Linked DNA regions of Homo sapiens. The protein of the gene in region 3 interacts with the protein of the main gene of each other region in a biochemical or structural test. Each region holds a gene or a part of one and is shown on either strand. Other genes may lie near its edges.

Region 1 (7,027 bases), on a different chromosome or scaffold from region 3:
TAAAATTACTTTTTTATAAATGAAACTGAAAAGAAACTATGGTTATTTAGCTTTTACAGATAATGTATTCATCTAAGTTTTCTCTTTTATGTGTGTGTGCGTGTGTGTGTGTGTGTGTGTGTATATATATATATATATATATATATATAACTTGCTCAGTATGAAGTGTAGTTCAGTACCAAATCACTTCTCTCTATATTAAAACACATTTTCTTCTTCTTTCAGGAATGATCAGCCTGAGATGGAACATGACTGTGAATAGACTCACACATCAGCCTCTTATAGAGACCCGAGTTTCTAAAAAAAAAAAAAAAATCCCACAAGCTTCCCATAGTAATACTCTTCTTCTCCAAATGGGAGGATAATTCGCTGGACTAAAAAATCCTGAAATCATAACTGCCACATCAATTCTGATTTCTCCCTTTATTCCATCATATGAGATGCAAATATTCTATAGACTATTTTTTACATGAAATATTAGAGCAGATAACCAGAGAACTGCATGGCCTCTACTTAATATATTGATGTTAAATAGAAATTGTAAGGCAACTTTCATGAAATGCTTTATGCCATTAATTTCTGATTTATTTTTTAGGTATGTATCATATTACCTACACAATGGACTAAAGCAATAGTCTACCTCTTTTACTAAGTAGAGCAGACACTGTTGGTTTTCTATTGTGCATTCATTTCCTCTCTTCCTTATTCCTAAAATAACACCAATTTTTAATTCAGTTGTCCACTCTTCCATCACCTCACATTGTCTATAGAAACATGACATTATTCTCTGTTCCAAAGTGAAGCACTTAATTGTCTAATCTAATTTCTCCTTGCCACTGATTGGTTTAGGAATGAACCATGTAGCCAGTGAGGTTTGAGGAGAGGACTTCTAGATGTTTTGGAGAAAGGAAGGATGAGTAACAACTGATGTGCTAGTCACTGCTGGCAGCCATTTTGTGATCATAATGGAAACTAACATGCAGAAAAGGAAAAAAAAAATAGACAAGGGCAGAAAAAGTAATCACAAAGAAACTGGGTCGTGGCCTGATGATAAGGTAATTAAATGACAATTTAGCTTTGGATTTCCTCATCATATGAAGCATACAATTGTTTATTATGTATACAGGGTTTCTGTTATATAGAGCTAAAAATATTTCTACTAAAACATTAATACAGTTGGAATATCCGGTGTGTTCCCATAATGGTCACTTCTTATCCTAGATCAAGTAGTGGTTGCGCAGAAAGAAGGAACTAAGCTAGAGTATGAGAAAAGGTTACTTGCTTTGTTGGGGCCTTAGAGCTGGACAGCCACATGGGTTAAGTGCTTGCTCCCTCACCCCCTATTTCCATAGAATCCTAGGAACCCAAAGACCTTGAAACCTGGGTAAGTTCTGTGCTATATACATTCTAAACTAATCAAGCAACAAGATGGGAGAGTTACAAAACAGAATGACTCATGCTACCAAACAATGCCTCCATTTTGTTTCTGACAGATCCTAAAATCTTACAATATAATAACAAGTGTTAATCGTGCCAGAAGTAATGCACTGGTAGACTTCATATTTTTCAAGGCGGGGTGTCATAAGACCTACAATTTTAGTATTTGCCTTTGCAAACTTTTCTTCCTTGCAACATGCACATATGCTATCCAAGGACGTGTTGCAAGATGTTTCAATTTCCAAATTCTAAAATAAATAGAATATAATGCAATTTACCTTTGACAAGAGTGGTCAATTCCCACTAGTTTTGCGATGTTTCTAATGATTAAAGTGCAAATATATATTCACTGAGCTGAATATATACGTCTCCATATATTTTATAAATCCGTTTTGAAAAATTATATATTTATTCTAAGTCATGTTTTCATCAAAAACCTAGTTTTCTTAAAATAAGAGGTTTGAAAAAAATTTCAAAAAAAGGCAATCTAATTTTCCTACAAATAGACTCTAAATAAAGGTGACATTATTATTCCTTCCTTACCCAAATTGAGCAGTACATCAAATAAAAGTGATTGCAAATTAAAGGCAGCAAACAGAGTACAGATACATTATTGGAAGGGATAGAATAACACTGAAGAACTCAACAAGAGCCAGAGTTCACGTGGTTTGTTTAATACAGTAATTGCAACTTTTCCCAAAAGGCAGTTTTTTTTTTTTCTCTTTAGTAGAGGTAACAAAGAAAGATACAAAACCTGTTTTCTAGAGGAGAAGACAGACAGAAAAGAGATCTCTCTCTAATGTGTTTAAGTGTGTGAGAGGTTATTCTTAGGAAAAAAATATGAAATATTTTATCTTTGCATGAATCATTTTAAAATGCAAAATGAATATATTATGTCGCCAACTTCATTACAAAAATTTATTTCTTTTTAATTCCCCCTATGATCAATGTTTATCATCACTTAACAAAATGTTTAACCAACAAGTTGAACATTGGGATTCTGCTATAATCTCTCACCCCTAAATAACAACCATATTTTATAGATGAGAAAGTAAAAGCTAAAACTCCAATTTGCCCAAAGCAGATGCTCACCATAGTAAGTGAGACGCCCTCTGGCAACATTTTTTCCTCGTGAATTCTCAGCAATGCATTCATAGGAACCTGCATCTTCCTGTTGGAAGTTGGGGATTTCAAGCACACCACTGAACTTCCTTAATTTAATTTTGCTGGAAAATGGCAGCCCATCACTTCTTCTCCAATTAATCTGAGGTATGGGACTAAGAAGAAAATCGTCAAGTTGTCTGCTATTGTCTGGAAGCCTTTTCAACTTGAGAAAATAAAGCTTTTAAGATTGAACAAGAAGGCACAGGATTTTAAATGCAGAAAACCACTTTCAATGGTCAATTATATAAACCTGATAAAAAAGATTTAACTTAACTCTTTAAGTTGATATTTTAATAAAATAAACTGCATTTTTCTTGACATGATTTCGAGAAAAAAGCCTAATACAGACCCACCATATTAGATTACAGCAAATGAACAAGAAAAAAAAAAACCCACCAATTTATTTTATGAAATTCGGCAGGCAGAGTAATTTTCTTCAAATCGACTTTGAATATTAAAGTTTCAAACTCAATTTTATATGTGCATTTCCCCTGCATTTTGTTTTTCCTTTGCCTCAAAATGAAAGTAAATTTTAGAAAATAAAAAAGAAGAGTCTCTCAAAAACCATCCTGATTTCTTATAGCAACCTAATATTTCAGCACATAGGAGTAAATGTTATAAAACTTACTTTCCAAGGGCAAAACATTCCAATTTCACAGTCGAACCTTTAGCTGCTGGAAGAGTTTCTGGAAACTGAACTTCTATTTTAGGTTCATATTCACCCATCACACCTATAAATCCACAATATAAAGTTAATCGTTTCAATATTTCCTTTAGAATTGCCTCGTTTTTCTTAAATAAAACTTTCTTTTGCTCCCATTTTGAACCAGCTCTTCTAGTGATTTCAATTAAATAAAATTTAGTCTATGCAGCTCAGATTCCCTTTTAACAGCCATCAAGTTGTTGATGAAACAGATTTTTTCTTTAATAATTTTTTTAGTGGTGCTTTTTAGCCTCTAACAAAACATCCAGAGCTTTAAAAAACCTGAACTAACTTGGGTCAAACATGCAATATTAATAAACATTTAAGAACTTTGGATTTGCTGATTCATAGGTTACCACGTACAGAGCAGTTCCAAGAAAACCACTGAGCCTTTACATTACACAAAATGGGAGGCTTTGAAATTGTGTATTCAATTTTGACATTGCTAGTCAAACTGAAATATATAATATATTATTGCTTCCTGAAATTTCCCTAAAGAACAAAAATTATGGCAGGGAATTTACTTAATGATACCCTAGTAGCAGAGATACCAATCTTAAACTTATTAAATGGCTCCCTGGAGTTAAGAAACAATGACTTAATAAATGGGAAAGGTCAAATTCAATTATAACTGACTGGAAAAAAGTGCTTCAATGCTTTGTGGTCATAGCATTATGCTGTATCAGATATGGTTTTGTGTAAATGGGTCAACTACCCAGGCTTACGGATCTGCTTCCTCGGCAGCTCATAGACTCCCCTTAAACAGCCATCAAGGTGTTGATGAAACAGATATTTTTCTTTAATGGTTTCTTTAGTGATGATTTTTAGCCTATAACAAAATATCCAGAGCTTTAAAAACCTCAAGCTGGCAAAAGTCAGGACAGGTGACTTCATGGGAGTGCAACCCGAGCCCCGGGCTCAGAAGGGTCTCATGCTTGGTATAAGTCTTTGCCATTGCTGTCTTAAAATTCTTAATGATTTTTGAAAAAGGGGCCACTCATTTTTACTTTGCACTGGTCCCTGCAAATTATGAAGCTTGCCCGGGGTAAGAATTATGCATAAGGACTATGAGTTATCAAATCATTTTTGTCATTGTACTCATAAAATAGTCTGTGCCAAAAAACATGAAGTGACAATTCTTCTAGATGTACTTTTTACATTTTCCCAATTGCTTTTGTTTGCAGCCTCAGCACCATTTACGCTCAGAAGTGCACTTGGAGAAGTTTCATTACCATCAGAACGTAGCACCAAAGGAGTTGGAGAGCCCAGCACTCGGGCATTTGTCACCATACTTGTCACCACACATGTGTAATTTCCCACATCAGACGGCTCCACCTTAGATATGTAGAGGTGCCCTGTCTCCTGGGAGACAAATCTCCGACTATCTTCTTCAACAAACGATGGGTATTCATTGAAGATCCAAGCATATGACAGTTCTAATAAAATTGTTGAAGAGAGAAAGAAATTCCATCATTAAGGACAGTTTTCCATTGTGTCCTTAATGTATCTATACAAACATCAACTTTACTTCCAAGTAGTGCTGAGTGTTTTTGTTGCAGGCCATGAAGAGAAGCAGTTAAGTGAAATAACTCTCAATTTATTCTTTATTATTATAGAGGACACCGTTGATTAGCATCCTGGTGGGAGCAATATTATTACTGTCATAATATCTCTGCTTCAGACACCTTCTAACAAGCTTCTCTGGTCTTGCTCAGTTTTAGTTCATATCTCCATCCTGCCTCTACCATGATATTTCAAAATTAACAATCTAATCATGTCAATTCCTGACATCAAACTTGGCGAAGTTCTTTAACCTCTCAGGCATCATGCAAAATTGCTTAACCTGAATATGAGGCCCTTCATGGTTAAGGTCCTGCTCAAAACCTTAGCCTCGGAGAAGCCCCATGCTCTCTTTTGTCCCTGAGTCTTTTGCACGTGCTGCTTCTGGGGCCTACAACTCCTGTTGTCTCTGTCCTGTCTTTGGCTTTCTCTACTTTCAACACCAACCACATTCTTTGAGATAACCTTCAAATGGTTTTCAAAGCTTGGTTCCAACATCAGGAATCACCTCCTCAAGTGAACTCTCCTTTAATCCTCCTTCTCTGGGTTGATGCTCCTATACAGAGTAATTCTAAGCTTATTTCAACTAAAACGCTTATCAGTATGTAACATTCTGCTTACTTGTCTGTCCTCCTATCACTTGTTAAACAAGCGATGTTAGTTTTTATTTCACCTGCCCTTCCCCCTCCTCCAAATTAGCAAAATGAAACACTCAAAGGCACTTAGTAGGGCCTCAATAAAGATTCATGGAGTTAGTTAAGGATACAATTATGCTACTGACTAACATCTATGTAAAGTACAGTATGAGAGTTTTCTTGAACTTTATGGCCAAGGTGAATCAGTTTTCTGCAAAGGAACCATTGTTCTTCTCTTTTATGATAATGAGGGCTAGATAATAATATGCCACTTTGTTCTGGAGGCCCAGGTTGTTCAGTGCCAAGTTGAGATTTAAGCACGGTTACTGTGGTTGGCTTATTGGCTTCCTGCTTTCCTGAGCCCTATTTTCTCTTAGTTGCATTAACTCTACTGTATTGATTCATTACTGTAGTGCTTTCCCAATAGAGTTTAAAAAAAAAAAAACTTTTGGAAAACATGGAATCAAAATAAATTTAATGAATAACAAGTTTAAATATATTTAAGAGATAATTCCTATGGTGAAGGTCTTTCTTTTTGGTAAAGGGAACAGTAAATCAATATGCAAATAACAATGAGATAAGGAGAAGGGTTAGATGAGAGCTCCCATGAGTTTTAGAGGAAGGACAGGTGCCATTCTTTCATGGCTGAAGAACAGGCCTTAAAGGACAGGAGAACACCCCAACAAGCAGGGATAAAAGCACTCCAAGTAGAGTGAAGAACATGAGAAAAGGCCAGCAGAGAAGAGAACATGCTAAGGACCTAGAAGAAATAAAACATGATGACTAATTCCCATTCACGATGCAAATGCAAATGCTTGATGTTTCCAAAAATTAGCAAGCCAATTGCAAATTATACAGACATCCAGAAACATTGGTTTTAACCTCAAACTGATCTTTAAATCATGCTGTCATATTGGTATAATGTTTCATGAAATTTCAGTCAGTCATGTGATAAGTTGTGAGCTCTAAAGTCACTTATCGGGTTGTATGAAACAAATGCATCTCAAACATTATGGTTATTCTCAGGCCTATCCTGATGATGCTTTTCTCTTGCAATAGTATTGAATAAACCATAGAGGAAAATAATACTAGCAAGGTAGGTTGAGTTTGTTCTGCAGTTGTTAAAACTGGCAGCTGTTGTAGCAAGAGCCCTTCAGGGTCTTCCTGCTGCTCCGGCAACCTCACTTTGCAGTAAAGGAGGGAAAGCAATCTTTCTCTGCTTTCCAAAGTGTTCCACACATGAAACTAACAAGGTTGTCCTTCTCCCTTTTACCCAGCCAGATATCTACTGTTCTCCAATATAGCAGGCCTTAGCAGGGCATTAGGAATAAAAAGTCAATCCTATTAACCCAGTTTATACCAAAAAGAATGGTTGAGAAAAAGAACTCTGACTCAGAGTCAGAAAACCTAAAATCTGGTGAATTCATGCAAGATAATATTATACAGTAATAAGAATATATGAACAATAACTCCATGCAACACTTGGAATAAATATCACAAATATAATTCTGATTGAAAATGTTCAACT
Region 2 (7,155 bases), on a different chromosome or scaffold from region 3:
TGTGAGAAACATATTACTCTCTTACTTTATGCTTGGATTGTCAGAAAGAAGAAAGAGAGATAAAATCAACTCCTGGAGTCAGAATTTCAAGAAAACAAACTACATGAATGTATGAGTTTATTATTTAAAGTAAGAGAAATAAATTTCCAACGACTTGGTAAAAATTTAAAAACCCGTATTTTAAAAGAAAGTTCAAAGACAATAGGTAATCAAGATACATGAGAAAGAATGGATTCGGCAAATTACAATATTGTAAATATCTGAGCCTCATAAAATTCTGGATTAGTTTTTGACTGATGAAGGAGACACTAAACTCTGCTACAACTTTGTTTTAGCCAATCAAACTCTCTACAGTCAAATCATCTTCACAGTATTACAGCCATCTAGAGAAGTTTTCATCATTTTTATTTTAATCTTCACAAATTATGCCTTTATTTTGTCTAGAAGTAAGACAAACTCCAAAATGCTTTGGCCAGCCTATGCGGGCCCTTTGCCCTTTACTGGCACCCTCTGGTCCATATTGCTAAGTCAGCTGTGACAGACAATCACACTCCTACCTCTACCCTGAAAGTGGTCAAGATTTTCTAAACTGTGAAGTAAAAGAGACATTTAAAGAAATACATATCAGCCAAACCTGGTACATTTCTAACAGATAGCGCTACTTAATTGGACACATAAGATTGAAGTAAATTTTTACATGCTACTAATTTTAATGATTCATCTTACATAAACATATTCTATGTATAGATTCATGATTTGATTTCAGGTTGGCTCCCTGACTAAGAATTGTTTCAGACCACCTAATACTTGAAGTACTAACTGCTCACCTTGAGAAACATTCAGGTATTTCAGCTATTCATTTAAAAATTCCACAACTGTAGCTTTTTGGATGTATTTCCAAAAGCACCTTGGTGTGCATGTGCCTCACAACTTATAGACAAAGTCCGGCATTTAGTTAATCTATGGGATTATATTTTTATATAACTTTTAAGAATCTAACTTTCTGTTCAGTTGTCTATGGAATCAGAAAGAAATTAAAATTAGCAGTTTTTCTCCTCCTTTCTCAATTTTCAGAAGTTTTAAATAATTTAAAGGATACACCAATTCCTAAGCAAAAACACTGGCACTTGTAATAATCATTTCACTGACTTTCTATTTTCAGATAGGCTTTAATATCATTCCCTCACACTCCAGCTATTTGTCAAATTCTATTCTTTATATTGAATTTCCCTTTTTATAACTTTAACTCTGATTTTTTTTGCCTTTTTCCCTTTAATGGACTTAGATGATCTTTTTATGTAATATCTTTAATTTGTTATCATTAGTTTTATATGACATATTCTTACTCATACCTCTTTTCGATTAGAGTCAGAGTAAACTTATGCCTGTTAAGTTTAAGACTCAGCATACTAGTCCCCACTTAACTTAGAATAATTTGAGCATGAAATAGGAGAATATGCAAGCAACCATGAGAATTGCTCAAAATTGACTACAGGCATTTTCAAAAACAGTTAATGACCTAATCATTATTTTTTAAAATACTGAGAGTCACAATATTAATCATAATGAACTCCTTTAAGCTCCCTGTAATGGTCATAAGTACTTCTGTAATTCTGTTGCAATTCAACAGTAATCGATGATATCTGCATTAATTTTTAAATTTGACTATTTGTCTATAATTTTAAATGCTAGTATTCTAATGAACATCTACTTCTTTCATCCTTATTTCCACAGTCGTAATTGAGAATCAAAGTAGAAGTATTGACCCTCTAAATGATTTTCTCTTTTAAATTAAGAAACAAATGAATGAAATGTAGGTAAGGCATTGAACATACAACAGTTTAAAAGTTTTTTGCTTCTCACCTGCATTTAAATTACCACATGAAATTGTATTTTTCTTGGGAGAACAGTTCTAAGATTTAAAAGTAATATAATTCTAAAATATTTAGTGGATTCTGGTTCTTTCGCAAATAAATATAGTTGAAACAACTTATTGTTCAGGTCATCAGAGTAATTCTCAGGTTTGTGTATGTGCAAATTGATATTCTCTTCCGTATATCTCCCTACAAAACATGGTAAGGATGTCTGAACATAATTTTTTAATCTATCACAATCCTATACAACCTTTAGAAAAAAGCTCAGCATAATCCAAGATACAGTTTTTCTCAGTCTCACGAACTTTGTAGAACTCCACTTATAGAGCATCCCTACTGAATTTTAACAAGTTATTGCAATGCCAGATGCCCAATTATTTAGTCTCGGAAACTCATTGCTCAAACATAAGGCATACATTCAGTACCTGAGAACGGCATCCTATTTTCCAAACATTTAGTTTCTTTTGTAGAAACATCCTCACTTTATCCTGGCATTTATTGCCTTACAATTTGCAATTTGCGTGTAGGAATTGCTTACTCTTATTTTGGGTGGCATTAGGAGATATACAAATAGGTTATATTTACTCTTGTTTCAACTTTTTGCCATAAAATCCCAGCAGGAAATAAAGTCGTGTTTTGTTTCCTTTATTTAAAAAAGCTTCATCTTACAGTTTTTACATTCTGGCAACATGGCAAGAAAGGATGGCTTTGCAGAACAGAGTGTGTCAAAAATCCTAAGTGGCTGGGAGATGAAGTGCACAATCACAGAACGCAGTCACTGGCAAAGGAATGTCAGCCACTTACCAATAAGATGCCAGACTCCACTGTCCTTCCTCTGTGACTCTCAATTCCTGTCTCCCATCCTCCTGCCCATCAGCACAGTTCAGAGAGAGCGGTTCCTCGGGTCCTTTGCAGCCTGTGGCAGAGGCGAATTGCGGAGTTCTTAATCATTCAGAGGGAATCCTCCAGCTTGCCCTGCCTCTCGCAGCAGACGGGACCCAGGTAACGCATCCTCTCCGCCCCGAGCTTTAATGGCACTTTGGCTGCCGCCTTCTCGCAGTTCCGCTCCCCCACGCCGTAGTTGGTTATATTGGGAAGTAGGTGCGGCGCCTCCTGCGGCTGGTGTGTTTGGGGCTCGCGTGTTTTCCTCCAATGCGTCCGCGCGCCCTGCGCCCCGCGCCTCTGACTGGCTGTGTCCTCCCGGGGCGGCCCCTCGCCCCTCCCCGGCCGCCCGCGCTGTCACCGGCGCCCGCGTCCAGCGCCTCACTGCCTCTTGCTGCAAAGGTTCATTGAGCATGTCCCTGGGCTTAACGAACTGTGCGCCTCCCGGAGGGTGCTCTGTGTTTCTCCACTCGTCTCACTAGTCAACCGGCATTTTCCTTCCCTGCTAAGTACAGAGGACCTGCCCCCCTTCCCCGAGCGTTTCTGCTCTGCAACCCCTCCGTATTTAACATTCATAGATTACAAAGCAAACGTGCTGGCTGGAGTCGGCACGGGAGATCCAGGCGAGAGTCCCTTCCTCCGCTCCTGTCTTCACTCTGATTCCTGTAGTCCCCGGCTCACACCTCTGACAGCAGCAGCACAGACTGACGCGTTCACTTAGGTCGGTTTGAGAGTGGACTTTTTCACTTTGCAGAATTTTCTTAAGTCCTGAATGGGAAGCACTTCTCTTTTGTTTCTGCACTTACGCGTTTCATCTAAGGACTATCAGGCTCTGCCTGTTTATATTTCTCTTTGATTTGGGGTGTTGACTCAGTTCTAAAAAAAAGCGAAGGAATGGTCTCAGCAACCTTTTTTTCGGAATTTTTATATTACAATGGCTGTAATTGGAAAAATAACACAGGTAGTAAATCCACAGTGTGGCAGCTTTAGTGCCATTGTTCTGCCAGTCCTCCTCTCTACTTTTTTTTTTTTTTTCCTCTCAGTCTTTGAGTCGTTTTCCAATTCCCACGATTGGGCTGATGGTAATTGGGTATTTGTTAAATAAATTATATAACATTTCCTTTGCAATATATTTCCATAGAGAATGTGGTTTGCACCTGTATTTAATGGAAAGGAAATCCCACGTACTGCTTTCTATCTCTGTGTCTGTATAAGAAACTGCATGGGAGTCTAGGGTCGCACCCCGTGTCCGCTGGTGTCCGTTTTTCATGTGTGTTTGAGAGCAGCCTGACCCTGGACTGACGCTGATTCTTCTGCTCACTGAATCCCCCGATGGGGTCTGACTGGCTCTAATTGGCAAGGAGAGTACAGTGCCAGGCAGCCTGTAGCTGGAAGCCGTCTACCACTAGCCCTGTGTTCTTTCTCTTGCAGTTTTTCTGGTAATTAAAATTAGTCTTTTCCTGTTTCTTGGCTGCTTCTCATTCATCCAATGATGTACAAACACCCAGTCTCTGCTTTTAATCGCTATCCTCAGGATCTAGGCTGATTGCTTGTTCTGTAGCAAAGACAAATTTGTGTGCATTTAATACTTCTCCACTCTTCCATACTTTTTATATTCGTGTTCCTGCTTTCCAGTAACTAGGTTATCTTCTTTATGTGTTAACTGAGGGATCGTTGTGGAGATTCCCCTTCTGTGGCTTTTTCTCTGCCCCACTGGCTCTTCTCCTCTGTCAGGCTGTCGGTTCACAGAGAGAACTACCAGGACTTTTATAACCACATTAAATACATCACAAAATAAATTCAAAGTGTAGGAGCTCTAACGCATTCTTTTTATTGTTCGATGAGGTTTTTGCCTTTAAAAGTGTATAATTGAGCACATGCAGCCTGAAAGAGGGATCGGGAGTGTAGAAAGCTTTCTGAAAGTTCTCTTCCCTTCTTAGAACACCATTCTATATTACCCATGATCCGATAATTTGGGCATTTTGAGTCATTATGTCACATAATTTCTTTCAACTAGCTTTGCCCTAGAAAGGATGTAAGTTGGCTTATAAAAATCTATTCAGTTTAAAAAAATGAATAAAAAATGTAGGTCAGTGAGATCAAGACAAACGGTAAAGTGATAGGAGGAGAGATAAGATGAAGCCAGAAATGAGGTTTATAGAGAAAACTGCATTGATGTTTTTGTTACAAATGGTGCTAGGTCTGCCATTAACTTTGTTAGCAGCCAATGTAAAGAAGGAAATGCTATCGGTCACATGATTCATGGTGCCCTCCTACCATTAACATGAACAAGAAAATTTACCTTTTACATGATGTAAATGGACTAAATATTTCTCCTTTCTTAAGCAAGAACTAAATAAAAGCTTTTAATGTTTCTACTTTTTATAAAGAGAGCAATATTATCACAAGACTATGGTGTGAATATATTTTTGAAACAAGTAGATAATGTAATAGCACTTTTCCTTGCGAAGTTATCTGATGCTTTAGAGGGAGAGAAAGGAAACGTTGAATCTGTTTAATTAAAAATAGTAAGGTCTATTTCTGTCAGTTCAAATTTAAAATGTTGACTTCAATCATTATTTGGGGGTGACTAGGTTACCTGGCTACACTTCATTCAGGACCCAGAAAGAGTGACTATATTTATTCTCATGTCTTTTATGACTTTTAATGTTCTAATTTGTAATAATATACAATTATATATTCCCTATTAATATCTATATATGTAACAGACAAACTGTTAGTCTATCTGACTCATCTTTCTTTAGAATTTTGCTGTTATGGAGTTAACTTATGTACTGTATATTTTTACAATTTTCTGCTTGGAGAGTAAGGGCTCTATAGATCAGGTACACTTCTGTATCCTTTTATATCCACAGTGTTCAGGTTTAAGCAGGTCAATGTCTGGAATTAGAGAAACAACAGTGCTTAAAATAAGAAACAAACAAACAAAACTCCTTGTTAGAGTTCCACTAAAAAGAAACAAACTACCTTGTGTTTTCCAAGTAAACATCAAATCTTTTCACATACCATGACCAAGATTTTCTACTATTGACATGTGAGAATGGGATTTTAAGTTATAGTTGTTTTGATGTAAGATTTGTCTTTAAAAGATATAAAAGTATGTATGCCCCATTATTAAATTCCAATGCTGTTTTCTTAATAAAATGGCATTATTAAAAGATCACTGGTTTTCTCTGTTTGATGCTAATGACATTTTTGAATTAACCAGCTCATCCTGTACCCTGGTAAAATATCATTTGTACATTAAGTTAATTAAAACATTGTTTGTAAGTGGGGTAAGTGGTTCAGTAGGTCACTTTCTCTATGCTATGGTTATGACACCTCAACCTAGCTGTCATGTTGCTGATCTGATCTTGTTGTCTAGCCATCTTTGTGTAAATGTCTTAATCTCTTTATCTCATCGTCCCCAATGGGCAAGCAAGCAGATGCAGCACATCTGTAGCAGTTGAGGTGCCTCTGAGCTTTTGTCTTATTTGTGTAACAGATTTTTATTGAAATCATGCCCTCCTTTCTCTTTCCCTTCATTTGACTCAGATAAGTTCTAGGTTCTAGTTAACAGATCATAACTATTATTATGTTCCATCAAATCATAGCATAACTGTAGGGAAGCAGACCAATGGTGAATTCATGTCTAGATCAGTCATCTTTCTTGGATCATCTGCCTTGCCTACTGGAGCTTCTTTTAGCATTTGCATTTTCTGTTTTGATGTTTTAATCCTCTATGTTAATGTGTTACCAATAATGGTGAATGGGTAAGTACTAAGATAAAAATTAAAGGAATCAAAATCTTGCATTTTCAATATATGCCAGTATTCCCTATAAGTGCAAAGTAACACATGAAGAAGCAAAAGTAAACTTTTACTTGAACTGGACAAAATATGATTTTAATTATATTTTGAGTTTCTTAGAAGATGTGTCTCAGTACTCATATCACAGCTGTTTTGTGAAAGCAGAAGTAAACATATCTTAATCAGACTTGGAAAATATACCAACTTAATTAATTTAACAGCTGCTTCAGTAAACAACGCTAAAGAACATAGTCTACTTTGTGGATGTCTTGATAACATCGGCAACCAAAACCATTAAGAAGTATGAGAGAGGAGCTCTAATTCAACTGTGGTGGTCAAGCTTTTGGTGGTCACAGTACCAACTCTTACTTACAGAAGCTGCAAATATCTAATCTCCTGTAGGTGGAATTTATGCTCACCCTTTGTGACATTTTGGTCCAACTATTTATGCAAACCATAAACATTTGCAGTTAATTAAGATTTTAGAAAATAGAAGTAAAAGTTGAAATCTTACTAATTTAAAGGTAAAGTTTACTTAGTTTTCATCCAGTAGATTCCTTTAGATATGCATTTCTATTTTTTTTTCTTGG
Region 3 (7,027 bases):
ACCCCCAAGTCTGATCTCATTCTTTTTTTTTTTCTTTAGACAGAGTCTCACTCTGTCACCCAGGCTGGAGTGCAGTGGCATGATCTCAGCTCACTGCAGCCTCAACTTCCTGGGCTCCAGTGATCCTTCTACGTCAGCCTCCTGAGCAGCTGGGACTACAGACATGCCCCACCACACCCAGGTAATTTTTAAATTATTTGTAGGTACAGGGTCTCATTATGTTGCCCAGGCTGGTCTAGAACTCGTGGCCTCAAGGGATCCTCCTGCCTCAGCCTCTGAAAGTGCTAGGATTACGGGTGTGAGTCACCAGCGCCTGGCCCTATCTCATTCTTTAGGGTCCAGAGGAGGGGGCTGGAAAGTACATCAAACTCTACCCCAGGGGGTCTGAGGTTCCCAATGGATGGACCCTGTTTCCTTCTGGGTTCAGGGATTCAGTGGGATTTGGAGGCTGGGGTTAACTGTGAGACACTCACCTTTTGGAAGGGTCATGGGGGTGTCTGCTGGCAGCCAGAGGAAGCAAGGGAGTGGAACAGTGAAGAGAGGAGGGTATCAGCAAAGAAAGGTGGAGAAACATCCTTCCAGGGACTAAGAAGGAGGATTGGGGATCCTACAGAGGCCCCTGCAACCTTAGACGTTCCTCCTCATCCTCTCCCAGTCACTGTGGTGGTGAAGACACCCTCAGACTCTAGGGGATTACAAATTAGGCTGGGGCCTGTTCCCTAATGTCTGGGGTCATCTATATGTGGGCTCACTCACCATCCTTGGAATCTGGAGGCTGCAGCCCACCCTTGTCCTCGCTGCTGCCCCCAGGGGCAGGGGCTTCCAATTCACTGGGACCCAGGTGTTCAGAGTGGAGGAGTTCCTCTGAGGGGGACATGCAGAAAGGTGGCTGAGGTAGTGAGCATAGGGGTGAGTGGAGGGCACCCTACCAGTAGAGCAAGTGGGAGATCATGCAGACAGCAGAGTCAGCCCCAAGTGTGGGGTAGCCAGAAGTGTGATCTGAGAAAGTGGGAAGCTGGATGGAGGCACTGCTGGCAGGAAGGATGGAGGCTGAAGTTTCAAGATTATGTTTTTTTTTTGTTTTTTTTTTTTTGAGACAGAGTCTCACTCTTGTTGCCCAGCTGGAGTGCAATGATGCGATCTCAGCTCACTGCAACCTCCACCTCCCGGGTTCAAGCAATTCTCTTGCCTCAGCCTCCTAAGTAGCTGGGATTACAGGCAAGCGACATCATGCCCGGCTGATTTTTGTATTTTTAGTAAAGACGGGGTTTCACCATGTTGGCCAGGCTGGTCTCGAACTCCTGACCTCAAGTGATCCACCCGCCTCGGCCTCCTAAAGTGCTGGGATTATAGGCGTGAGCCACCGCGCCTCAAGATGATAGCTTTCTTAAATACTAGGAGAATCAGGGTTATGTGTGAGATATCCAGGAGAAAGACACAATAGATGTGGGGGCTGCAATAGGTCACACTTTCCGGTATGCATATAGGTTCCTTCCCTTGAATCTGGACTGAATTTGTAACTTGCTTTAACAAATAGAATGTGGGCCCAAGCCTTAAGACCTAGCAACTTCCACTGTGATGTCTTAGAGAGCATAAACCACCATGTAGGGAATCTAGCTACCCTGCTGATGAGACCACATGGAGAAGCTCCACGGAGAAGAGAGGCCTTGCGCTTCCTTGGAGAGAGAGAAAGGTCCATTTGTGCTAGACTCCCAGCCCCTAGATGATCTGCTAGCTAAATACAGCTGCATGCTTGACCACTGGCAAGACCACTGAAAGAACCACTCTGCTGAGCGCAGACCGGATGGCAGAATCATGAACAAAGAAAAATCATTGTTGATTTTCACTGCTAAGGTCTGGGCTGTTTGTTATAGAGGAATAAATGAAATTGGGGGGGCCCAACATTTAGGAGTCAAGATCTGCCCTCAGAGATCTGTAATGGGAGCCAGGGTAATAGACACTCACGGATTTGGGGCCGCAGCTCCTGAGCCAGGTGGGGGTTCTGGTCAAGCAGGCCCAGGCTCTGATTCACCCTCTCCTCAATCACTTGAAGGTGGGTATGCACCTGTGGGTGAGTGGACATGAAGGATGAACTGCGCAATGCAGGCTGGAGATGAGGAAACTGAAGCAGTATGAAGGAGGAATTCAATAGCGACTGAGGAAAAGCGGCACATGCAATGGACAGGATGTGTGGTACAAGGGTTAGGAACTGGGCCATAGGAGAAGGAAATTGAAGAATAAAGTCCAAGGAACAGAAAGTGGGGTTTGAGGGGATTCCAGAGACAGAGATTGAGGATTGGAGGGTCATATAGAAATGACATGGTTCAAGGCAAGATTTGGAGTTCAAGAGCACAGAATGGAGTTTCATAGACAGGAAGAAAACATCCAGGAAAGGGGAATTCAAATTTGAGCGCACAGAACAGGGGTTCCAGGGAAAACAAGTGAAGTTATGGAGAAAGGAGGTTGAGGGACAGGAAGAGGGTTCAAGGAACAAGAAGGAGATTCTCGACCGGGCGCGGTGGCTCATGCCTGTAATCCCAGCACTTTGGGAGGCCGAGGTAGGCAGATCACCTGAGGTCAGGAGTTTGAGACTAGCCTGGGCAACATGGCAAAACCCTGTCTCTGCTAAAAATATTAGATTGGTGCAAGTTATTGGGGTTTCTGGCCGGGCATGGTGGCTCACGCCTGTAATCCCAGCACTTTGGGAGGCCGAGGTGGGCAGATCACCTGAGGTCAGGAGTTCGAGACCAGCCTGGGCAACATGGCAAAACCCTGTCTCTGCTAAAAATATTAGATTGGTGCAAAAGTTATTGGGGTTTCTGGCTGGGCATGGTGGCTCACGCCTGTAATCCCAGCACTTTGGGAGGCCAAGGCAGGCAGATCACCTGAGGTCAGGAGTTCAAGACCAGCCTGGCCAACATGCTGAAACCCGTGTCTACCAAAAATACAAAAATTAGCTGGGGCCGGGCGTGGTGGCTCACACCTGTAATCCGAGTACTTTAGGAGGCCAAGGGTGGATCACCTGAGGTCGAGTTCAAGACCAGCCTGACCAGTATGGTGAAACCCTGTCTCTACTAAAAATACAAAAATCAGCCAGATGTGGTGACACCCGCCTGTAGTCCCAGCTACTCAGGAGGCTGAGGCAGGAGAATAGCTTGAACCCAGTAGGCGGAGGTTGCAGTGAGCCCAGATCATGTCACTGCACTCCAGCCTGGGAAACAGAGCGAGACTCTGTCAAAAAAAAAAAAAAAAATTAGCCCAGTGTGGTGGCAGGCTCCTGTAATCCCAGCTACTCGAGAGGCTGAGGCAGGAGAATTGCTTGAACCCAGGAGGTGGAAGTTGCAATGAGCCAAGATCGCACACTGCTCTCCTGCCTGGGCGACAGAGCAAGAACCTGTCTCAAAAAAAAAAAAAAAAAAAAGACGATTCTGGGAAAGGCAGTGAAAATCCAAGGGACAGAACATAGGATCGACGGCGGGGGGAGTAGGAATCCAAGGGCCAAGAAGCAGGGGTCAAAGACACAGCATGTGAGGGTCCATGTTTCAGGGTCAGGAAGCTGAGCTGAGAGACTGGGAAGGGGCAGAGAAGCGGTGTTCAGGGGATAGGAAGGGGTCCAAGAGACAGAAAGAGGGTCTAAGGGACAAGAGAAGAGCCTGAGGCGCGGGCGTCTGAGGAATAGCGGCGCATTTGGGAGCTGGAAGGATGTGAGCACCTGGAAGCGCATCTGCTGTGCCTTCTCGGGATCCACGGCGGCCACATGCTGGTAGTGGCGCAGCGTGTGCCTCTGTTCCTTCTGCTCCGCACGCAGGTAGCGCCGCAGGGCCAACAGGACACGCTCCGCCTGTGGAAGGGACACAGGATGCCCAAGCCCGCCCTGACCCTTCTCACCCTCTGCTCTCTGCCCCCACGGTCCCCGCACCTGAGGCGGATCTGCCTGCAGGGCTGCCAGGAAGCCCTCCAAGGCAGCCCGGCGCTGGTCGTTGATAAGGGCGATGACGCGGGTGGCGTGGGTTTCCACCAGGCGCTGTCGCTCACCAGACACCTGCTCCTCCAGAGTCTGCAGAATGGACTGGAAGTGCTGGGGAGCGGGTGGGCACAGGGTCAGGAGAGGAGAAGATGGGTCAAAGCCTGGTCAAAGAGAGCCTGGAAAGGCAGGGCTACATGGGGTTGGGGGGCGTTCCAGGGGTCCAGGCCTGGGCAGAACCAAAGGTTATGGACTGGAAGGGGTGGGCTACAGGGCCAGGCAGAGTGGAGGTGGGACTAGGCCCACTGGGAGCCAATGTGAGGATGTAAACTGTAAGATTGAGTGGGAGCAATCTGGGAGCAGAACTGACCAATGTTAAGGTGAAAGGGACAAAGCCTTGCAGGGCTCCTGGCCTGGGCAGGGTCAAACTGGAGACAGGCTGTGTATAAATGACACGATAGGGGTGGGACAAAGAGCTGGAATGGGGGCTAACATGAGTGGGGTCTCCATGGGGTAGGTCAGGTTAATAAAGGTGAGATTGGCCCAGCAGAGCCAGAATCAGGGGGCGGGGCCTGATAGAGACATAAATGCATCAAAGAGAGACCAAGAAGGCCCTGGCTGCATCTGCAGAGGCCCTGGCTTGGGACAGGACTCCAGAGCCAGCCCTGAGAGGCAAGTCAAGTCTGTAGATGGGGCCGAATATGGCCAATCTGGGGAGGAGAGCAGTGTCAGGTCAGATGACGGCTAAGAGGGGCAGAGCTGCATGTAGGCATGGGGCCAGGAAAGGCTGAGATAGGTGGGAAGGGGTGGAACTGGATGGGCAGGGCACAGCCAGAGCCAGGTGAAACTGAGTGTGCTCCAGGTGGTGGACAGGCATGAGTAGGACCCACTGGGGCTGTCCTACCTCATTCAGGGCCTGTCTGTCGGCTTTAGGCAGGTTCTTGGACTGGTTGTCTGCCATGGCCCATTCACGCATCACCTGCATAGGGAGGGGAGCTTCAGGATCCCAGAATCCACCCTGATCCACCTGGCAAGTCCCCCAACCCCTCTTTAAGATTTTAGAAGCCCCATGGCTGGGCGCAGTGGCTCATGCCTGTAATCCCAGCACTTTGGGAGGCCGAGGTGGGTGGATCACAAGGTCAGGAGATTGAGGCCATCCTGGCTAACATGGTGAAACCCTGTCTCTACTGAAAACAGAAAAAATTATCTGGGCGCTGTGGTGGGTACCAGTAGTCCCAGCTACTCGGGAGGCTGAGGCAGGAGAATGGCGTGAACCCAGGAGGTGGAGCTTGCAGTGAGTGGGAGATCACGTCACTGCACTCTAGCCTGGGCAACAGAGCGAAACTCTGTCTCAAAAAAAAAAAAAAAAAAAGATTTAAAGGCCCCAGATCCCTTAAGTCTCGCTGGCTCCTGGGTTCCCAAGAGGGAAGATCCAGAAGGAGTTTAAAGTGAAAGAGAGGCCAGGCGTGGTGGCTCATGCCTGTAATCCCAGCACTTTGGGAGGCCGAGGCGGGTGGATCTCCTCCCGCCGGGAGTTCAAGACCATCCTGGCCAACATGGTGAAACCCTGTCTCTACTAAAAATACAAAAATTAGCCGGGCGTGGTGGTGGGTGCCTGTAATCCCAGCTACTCAGGAGACTGAGGAAGGGGAATCGCTGGAGCCCGGGAGGCAGAGGTTGCAGTGGGCCGAGATCGCACCATTGCACTCCAGCCTGGGTGTTAAGAGCGAAACTCCGTCACAACAACAACAACAAAAGAAAAAAAAAAAAACCAATAAAGTGAAAGAGTACCATAGACCAGAGTTTCCAGAGAACCTGGTAGCGTCTCAGTGGGATTCTAGAAGGGCCATGGATCTCTGGCCATCTTAGGGGGTGGTGTTGAGAGCTCAAGGTCAAAGGGGCTTAGGGAGCCTTTGGAGGTAGTATCAATGTGTCCTGGAGGAATTTCCTGGTATTTAGGGAGCTCTGTACTGTAGGGGGTCCTGGGGCCCCCAGTATTATCACCTCATTAATCTGGCGCATCCTACGCTCCTCCAGGTCCATCTTGGCCCTCAGGAACCCCTCGTGCTCACTGATTTCCCCAGGCATGCCAAAGTAAATATCCACACCGTCTGTGGGCCTCGGGGTGGGAGTGACTGCAAGACCAGGGATCAGGAGGTCAGTCTGCAGCCCACCTCCAGGTCGCCTTTTCTACCTAGAGAACCACATTTCCTAGAGTGCACTGGAGACCATCATGCACCCAGTTTAGCCACCGCTGCTGCCTGGCATTATGGGAGATGTAGTTCTGGACTGGGCCTGTTCTTGCAAAGCTTAGGAATCCATTACACCATCTTCCAAGCTTTCCTGAAATGATCCTCAAGACCTACCCAATGGCCCCTCTACTCCCAAGTACCCCCAAACCACCCCCTCCCTTGGCAGGTTAGCCCTTCTACTTCTATTTTATCCAAAGATACTCTCGTCTTTTCTCCTCAGTTGGGCCTTTCCCCTATAGGCCCCTCCCAAAGACACCCCCCAGCAAGACTCCCCCAGATCTTTCTCCCTCTATGGTGGAGAGGCCCCAGGGGTTCAGAGACTGCCTCACCTTTGCCGACCACTGCAAGTGTATGGGAGCTTGGGGGTGGGACCGTTTCCTCTTCCTCTTCAGCCTGCGGAGGCTCCACGAAGTAATCATCTACTGGCTGTGGGAAGGATTCCTCCTCTTCCTCGTCCTCAGCCCCCTCTACTCTGCTCCCCGGGGGCCAGGACCGGGTGGAGGGGTCACTGAGGGAGCAGGAGAGGACCCAGGCAGTAAGAACCCAGGCCTGGGCTCCCAGGCTTCCATCCCCTGCCTCAGGAACCTTGAGATGGGCATGGAGGGTTCCCTCCCACTCACCCAACTGCTGTCCCAGATGGGTCGGGGGTCCCTGGAGGGGGACAGCACACATACTCCACACCACGGAACCGATCCGAGCCACAGGGTAAGAGCATGCCCGAGCCGTGCAGGATGAGGCCCTGGGAGCTGCAGGCCTGTAGGAAGAGTGGGCCCAGATGCCAGGATTGTGGGATGGGAGGGGGTAGATGGGG

The links. The genes of interacting proteins can lie anywhere in the genome.
Region 1: the proteins of APLP1 (region 3) and CNTN3 form a complex in vitro, tested with the Homo sapiens proteins (one study listed by IntAct).
Region 2: the proteins of APLP1 (region 3) and CNTN5 form a complex in vitro, tested with the Homo sapiens proteins (one study listed by IntAct).

What each region holds. Positions count from the first base shown.
Region 1 is NC_000003.12:74,366,660-74,373,686, forward strand, and holds part of CNTN3 (contactin-3 precursor), read right to left. Parts: intron 4,741-7,027; coding exon 4,537-4,740; intron 3,333-4,536; coding exon 3,230-3,332; intron 2,715-3,229; coding exon 2,530-2,714; intron 1-2,529. UniProt on the Homo sapiens protein: Contactins mediate cell surface interactions during nervous system development. Has some neurite outgrowth-promoting activity.
Region 2 is NC_000011.10:99,016,794-99,023,948, reverse strand, and holds the start of CNTN5 (contactin-5 isoform 1 precursor), read right to left. Parts: upstream 3,001-7,155; 5' UTR 2,679-3,000; intron 1-2,678.
Region 3 is NC_000019.10:35,871,555-35,878,581, reverse strand, and holds part of APLP1 (amyloid beta precursor like protein 1 isoform 1 precursor), read right to left. Parts: intron 6,971-7,027; coding exon 6,837-6,970; intron 6,725-6,836; coding exon 6,546-6,724; intron 6,100-6,545; coding exon 5,969-6,099; intron 4,944-5,968; coding exon 4,869-4,943; intron 4,079-4,868; coding exon 3,920-4,078; intron 3,842-3,919; coding exon 3,713-3,841; intron 2,066-3,712; coding exon 1,966-2,065; intron 865-1,965; coding exon 757-864; intron 501-756; coding exon 474-500; intron 1-473. UniProt on the Homo sapiens protein: May play a role in postsynaptic function. The C-terminal gamma-secretase processed fragment, ALID1, activates transcription activation through APBB1 (Fe65) binding. Couples to JIP signal transduction through C-terminal binding.